2 linked regions of the Homo sapiens genome follow. The protein of the gene in region 1 purifies or fractionates together with the protein of each later gene. This does not show direct contact. Each region holds a gene or a part of one and is shown in the gene's direction. Other genes may lie near its edges.

The links. The genes of interacting proteins can lie anywhere in the genome.
Region 2: the proteins of ZNF267 (region 1) and DDI2 purify together in Homo sapiens (co-immunoprecipitation; one large-scale study listed by IntAct). This does not show direct contact.

The regions. Positions count from the first base shown.
Region 1 is NC_000016.10:31,887,307-31,890,806, forward strand, and holds part of ZNF267 (zinc finger protein 267), read left to right. Parts: intron 1-2,900; exon of another isoform or gene 2,901-2,944; intron 2,945-3,500. UniProt on the Homo sapiens protein: May be involved in transcriptional regulation.
Region 2 is NC_000001.11:15,623,958-15,627,457, forward strand, and holds part of DDI2 (protein DDI1 homolog 2), read left to right. Parts: intron 1-2,711; coding exon 2,712-2,841; intron 2,842-3,500. UniProt on the Homo sapiens protein: Aspartic protease that mediates the cleavage of NFE2L1/NRF1 at 'Leu-104', thereby promoting release of NFE2L1/NRF1 from the endoplasmic reticulum membrane.

The DNA.
Region 1 (3,500 bases):
AAACTCTTATCAGATCTATTTTCTCCCAGTCCCTGGGTCGCTTTTTCATGTTCTGTGTTTGCTGTGCATACACTTTTTTGTTTCATTTAATGCTACTTGTTTTTATTTTTTGCTTTTTGTTGCTTGTGATTTTTTGATGTGATAGCCAGAAAAATTATTGCCAAGGCCAGTGTCAAAGAGATTTTTCCTTATGCTTTGTTCTAGAAGTTATACAGTTTCTGGTTTTGCATTTAAGTGTTAATTCTTTTGAGTTAATTTTTGTACATAGTATAAGTAAATTTTATTCTTTTGCAGATGACTACTTTCTTTCAGCATTATTTGTTGAAGAGACTATACTTCCCCTTTGTGTATCTTGGTGCCCTTGTCAAAGTAATAGTTGACTGTATGCACATGGGTTTCTTTCTGGTTTTTGTATTCTATTCCATTGGTCTATGTGTCTGTTTTTACGTCAGTACCATACTCTTGATTAGTATAGCTGTGTAATAGTTTGAAATGAAGAAGTGTGATGCCTCTAGCTTTATTCTTCTTTTTCAAGATTGCATGGGCTATTTGGAGTTATTTGTGATTCCATTGAAGTTTTATAATTTTTTCTATTTCTGTGAAAAATGCCATTAAAATGTCAATACAGATTTCATTGGATCTGTGAATCATTTTGTGAAGTATGGACATTTTAGCAATATTTTTTCCAATCCATGAAGAAGGGATATTTTTCCATTTGTGTCTTTTTCAATTACTTTCATCAGTGTTTTATAGATTTTACTGGACAGATCTTTCACTTCTTTTGTTAAATGAAGTTATAAAATTTAAAAAAAATTTTTGATACTATTATAAATCAGATTTTTTTGTAACTTTTTTCTCAGTTTATTGTTAGTATATGGAAATGCTACTAATTTTTGTATATTTTTGTGGCCTCAACTTTACTGAATGGATATATTAGCTCTATTTTTTGTTTGTTTGGTATAGTCTTTATGGTTTTCTGTATCTTCAAATCACTTCATCTGTAAACAGTGAGAATTTTACTTCTTTATTCCTGATTTGAATGCCTTTTTGTTTCTTTTTCTTACCTAATTGTTCTGGCTTGATTTCTCACTACTATGTTGAATAGAAGTGTTGAGATTGGGCACCTCTGTCTTGTTTCTGATACTAGAGGAAACTTTCAGCATTTCACTGTTTACTCTGTTGAGATGGATACTTTTGTATGTATGTTGTTTGGAGTTTTTATTATGAAAATGTATTTACTTCTGTTATAGGCTTTTAATAAATTTTTTGAGAGGATTATATGATTTTCATCTTTTTGTTATTGTGGTATATCATTTAAATTGTGTATGTTAAAACATTCTTGCATCTCAGGGATAAATCCTACTTGATAATGATGTCTGATCCTTTTAATGTGTTTTTGAATTTGGTATCTAGTATTTTGTTGAGAATTTTTGCTTGTATCTTTATAAGGAATATTGTTTTGTTACTTTTTTGTAGTGTCCTTATCTGGCTTCAGTATGAGATGTTGGTGGTCTCATAAAATGAGTTTGAAAGTGCTTTTTTCTTTCAGTTTTTTGGAAGAGTTTGAAAAGTGTTGACATTGCTTTTTTAAATGCTTGATACAGTTTACCCATGAAGTCATTTGGTCATGGGATTTTTTTTAAATTGGAAGATTTCTGAGTATTTCTGTCTTCTTTCTCATTATTAGTCTTTTGGGTATTTCTGTTTCTTCACAGTGTGGTGTTCTTTCTAAGAATCAATTTCTTCTAAGTTATCTTTTTTTGTTATGTAATTGTTCATAATAGTTTCTTATTTTTTTTCTTTCTGTGATATCAGCTGGAATGACTGCTTTTTCATTAATAGCTTTTTGAGTCCTCTCTCTTTTTTTTTCCCTTGGATAATCTAGGAAAAGTTTGTTCATTTTGTTTTTTTTTAATGACTCAGTTTTTTGATATTTTTTATTTTTCTAGTCTCTCTCTCTCTTTGCTCTAATTTTTATTATTTCCATAATTATGCCAACACTGGGATTATTTTGTTCTTCTTGATCAAGCTCCTTGAGGATTACAGTTAGATTGCTTATTTGAGATCTTTGTTTTCCTTATTGTAGAACTTTATCATTTTATACTTCTGTCTTAGAACTGCTTTTGTTACATCTCAGAAGTTTTGGTTTCTTGTGTTTCCAATTTCATTTGTATCAAGACAATTTTTTATTTCCCTTTTGATTTCATGGTTGTTCAGAAGCATGTTGTTTAATGTCAACACTGTATTAGTCTATTCTATAAAGAAAAGAGATTTAATTGGTCTACAGTTCTGCAGTCTGTACAGAAGCATGGCACCAGCATCTGCTTGGCTTCTGGCGAGGGCCTCAGTAAGTTTGCAATCAGGGGAATTGGTAAAGGTAGAACAGGCAGTCACATGGCAAGAGCAGGAGCACCAGACTAAGTTGGGAGGTGCTACACACTTTTAAACAACCAGATCTCATAACATCTCACTATCAAGGACAGCACCAAAGAATTCTTGAGGGATCTGCCCCTATTATTCAGACACCCCATATTAGGTTCCACCTTCAAGAATGGGGATTACTTTTCAACATGAGTTTTGTGGTGGGAGACTAAACATCCACACTGTATCACACACATTTGTGAGCTTTCTAGTTTTCCTCCTGCTGTTGATTTTCTAGTTTTACACCATTATGATAAAAAACTTGATATAATTTTAATCCTAAATTTAAAAAGACTTGTTTTCTATTTTTGGTTTAACATATGATCTATCCTGGAGAATATTCCATGTATTCTTGAGAAGAATGTGTATTCTCATACTGTTTGATAAAATATTGTCTATTTAGTTTATGGTGTTATACAGGTGAACTCTTTTTTTTTATTAGTTTTCTCTCTAAATATTCCATGCTTTGTTGTAAATAGGACATTGAAGTTCCCTGTTATTGCATTTCGTTTTCTCACCACAGGTATGTTAATGTTTGCTTTATATATTTGGGTGCTCCAGTGTTGGGTGCATACATAGTTTTAGTTTCTATATCCTCTTAACAAATTAACTTCTTTATCATCATGTAGTGAACTCCTTTCCTCTTGTGACAGATTTTTGCATGGAAGTCTGTTTTGTCTAATATAACCAACAACCACTCCTGATTTTTGGTTGTTGTTTGCATGCACTGTGGTTTCTATTCTTTAAGTTTATGTTTGTCCTTAAATCAAAAGTGAGTCTCTTGTAAGCAGCATACTGTTAGTTTAAAAAAATTCATTTAGCCACTCTGTGTTTATTCTAGTCTGTTTTGTTTTCTATAATAGAATACCACAGATTGGCTAATTTATAAACAGGGGTAGTTTATTTGGCTCATGATTCCAGGAGCTTGGAAGGCAAAGAAAACGACATTGTTATCTGGTGAAGGCCTTTTTGCTGCATAGTAACATGGCCAAAGGCCTGAGGGAGAAGAGAGCTCCCTTTTATAACAGACTCACTTTTGTGATAACTAACACACTCCCATAAGGACATTAATTCATGAG
Region 2 (3,500 bases), on another chromosome or scaffold:
GGAGGCTGAAGCAGGAGAACCTGGGAGGCGGAGCTTACAGTGAGCCGAGATCCCGCCACTGCACCCCAGCCTGGGCGAGAGCGAGACTCCGTCTCAAAATAAATAAATAAATAAATACCGTTAAAATGTGCCTCTGCTCCCAGGAGACTGTTCATGTATCTCTAAATATACTGATAGTTGAATTTCTGAAACTGGAAAATTAAAGAGTAGGTTGTTGACAGTGGCTTCACAGTGTTGATGCTATGCTGTAAGAGCCTGCCTACCTGCCATTTCTCTTGACATACCTCTTTTTTCTTGTTGCACACCTCAACCTGTGACGCTCATCACTTCTGGTTTATGTGTTTTTTCCAAGCAGTCTCACAAGTTATAATATGACTCTCAGTTGTTTTGCTGAAATTCTGTGTTGATGGTGATGTACTTTTACTGTGAAATTTGTGTTTAAATGAGGGTGTGTGAATGGGATGATGGGAGTGACAGTTGCAGTCTGTTGAAATGTGGTTCTTTTTTTGTTTGTTTTTGTTTTTTAAGAGACAGGGTCTTACTCTGTTGCCCCAGGCTGGAGTGCAGTGGTGCAACCGCAGCTCACTACAGCCTGGACCTCCTGGGCTCAAGCAATCCTCCTGCCTCAGACTCCTAAGTAGCTGAGACTACAGTCACATGCTACCATGGCTGGCTATTTAAAATTTTTTTTTTTTAGATATGCGGTCTCACTATGTTGCCCAGGCTGGTCTCAAACTCCAGGGCTTAACCCATTTGTGCTTAGCCTTCCAATGGAACGCTAAGCTTGTGGGAGTTATATCCTACTACTCAAGGTCATTGCCAAGGTATGATTTTTTCACAAAAGAAAATTTGCAACCTCTGGCCTAAATGGGTTAAGTGATGCTCACACCTCAGCCTCCCCAAGTGCTAGGATTATAGGCATGAGCCATCATACCAGATCTGAAATGTGTTTTAACTCAGCGAGTTGAGCATTAAGGACTTAATAGTATTTTTTTTCAAGTCATGCATAAAACTTGTATAATTGGGCCTACAAATTTGCTCATATTCAGAAGAATTTGATTTTGGTAGGAACTCATTTTCCTGTTCTGTTCCTCATGTCTATAAATTCTGAGAGCAGATATGGCATAATCACTTTTTTTCCAGTTTAAATGCTGTGTTTTCAGTTTTTATTTCAGGTAACCTTACTATGAAAGCTGTAAGGAAACATAGAATGATAATGTTAGCAGAGAGAACTGGAAGGGACAGCTGTAATGATGATCTAGCCCACCTGCTTGCTTGACACATGGGAAGGGTGAGGTCTGGACCTGCTGAGTGTCATGCCCCTCGCAGGGAGTTACTGGCAAGGATAGAACTCATGTTCCTCAGTTCGCATGTGGCCTGGTGAAAAATCATTAGGAGGAAAACCTTTCAAAGCCTGAGTTTGTTCTGAATGCCTTTCTGGAGTATGTAATAATGCAGGGCAGATTTTATGTTTTTTCATGATAAAATTATAGTGTACCTTTGTTCTTTCTATCTGCAACACATTATTTCATCTATTTGTGCTGTCAGGTTTTTTTCAGTTTGATTACACATCATAAAATATTTTTATTAGTAGTACATTCCTAATTCTTTTTTCCACTTGTATTTAGTTGTTATTTTCTTAGTTTCACTTTATTTTCCAGTCTCCCCCCTCCCACCACCCCACCAAGATGGAATCTTGCTTGCCCAGGCTAGGGTGCAGTGGTGCGATCTCAGCCCTGCAACCTTTGCCTCCCGGGTTTAAGCAATTCTCCTGCCACAGCCTCTGGAGTAGCTGGGATTACAGGCACGTGCCACGACACTGGGCTAATTTTTGTATTTTTAGTAGAGACGGAGTTTCACCATGTTGGCCAGGCTGGTCTCGAACCCCTGACCTCGTGATCCACCCGCCTTGGCCTCCCAAAGTGCTGGAATTACAGGCGTGAGCCAGCGTGCCCGGCCCAGAGTGATAAAACTTTGGGGGTGGTAGAAGAGAAGGAAGATTGCAGTGCAGGAAGGATGATATTTGGGACCCTTTTGCCAGTGTTCAAGATTATTTCAAAGTGCACACTTTATTTAATAGTACTGTAGTTAGTTAGCATACCCAGAATAAATCATTCCCTTTTCCTCCCTGCTAAAAATTAAATCTAAAATTATATCCATTTCCATAAATTCATTCATTCTTTAGTTCAACAAATATTTGAGCATCAGTTATATAACAGGCCCTGTTCTAAGCATTTATGATCTCGTGAATGAAACAAAGTCTTTGTCCTCAAGTAGTTTACATTTAATGGGGCAGAAGGACAATAAGTAAATATATATTGTGTTAGTTGAGAGTACATTTTAAATAACATAGTAGGGAAGAACTCTAAAGAGTAATGTTTGATCAGAGACGTAAAAGGAAAAAAATGAGTGGAAAAAGAACATTCCTCAGGTAGAGAAAACAAGAGAAACAGCCCTGAAGGGGAAGTTGATCCCTGTTGTTTGAGGAACAGCAGTCATAGTGAAAGGCGAAGTCAGGAGAGCCAGGGACCACATTGTTTGGTCCTGCTAGGTGACGGGAAGGACTGTGGGTTTTGTTCTGGATGTGGTGGGAATCCACTGGAGGGTTTGAAAGGAGGGTGACATCTGATTCAGGGGAAAACTGGTCCTTCTGCCTTGCGCTGTGTTACTTCTCAGTGCTTTATACTGTTGTATATCTTTTCTTGTTGTAGATCGTCTATGCGGAAAGACCTCTCACAGACAACCACAGATCATTGGCTTCTTATGGCTTGAAAGATGGGGACGTTGTGATTTTACGACAGAAGGAGAATGCAGACCCTCGACCTCCAGTGCAGTTCCCAAGTAAGACATCTGGTGGTTGAGCATCCCCCAGCAGAACCATCAGCAGGTAGCAGAGCATAGCACCTCAGAGTTTTGGATTCGCTTTGGATTCAGACTACAGAATACAGATCCTGACTCTGCCTTTTCCCTGCCGTGTAACCTTGAACAAGTATTTTAATGTCTCTAAATTGGTTTCCTCTTCTATAAGTTAGGTGCCATAATTAACCCCAACTCCTAAAGCTGACGTGAGGCTAATGCATGTAAAATCTTAGCACACAGCAAGCCCTCAATAAATGTTAGCTTCTGTTATCAGTGATAATTATACAATAATCTTTATCCTTGGGAAGGACTTGAAAGAATACATAAGCCTATGATTTTGCTACTTTGTGTCTGTCCTTCAGTGGCCAGCCTTTCTGGAGCATTTTATAGCCAGCCAGGCACTTGGAGCTGCATTTCACATGATCTCATAACTTGGTTGTGGGGGGATTTACATACTAATTTGCATAATAATTTATAATTATGAAGCTCAGATTTTAAATGGTGTCTTTAAAGTTACATAGCTATTAAGTGAGGGCACAGGAATTAAAATTTGATGCTTTTTCCATTATGCTGAACTTGATAAACATTAAGCAGCTTGACCACCAAGTTGTGGTTCTTTCCTACCAGCTGTGTTAATCACA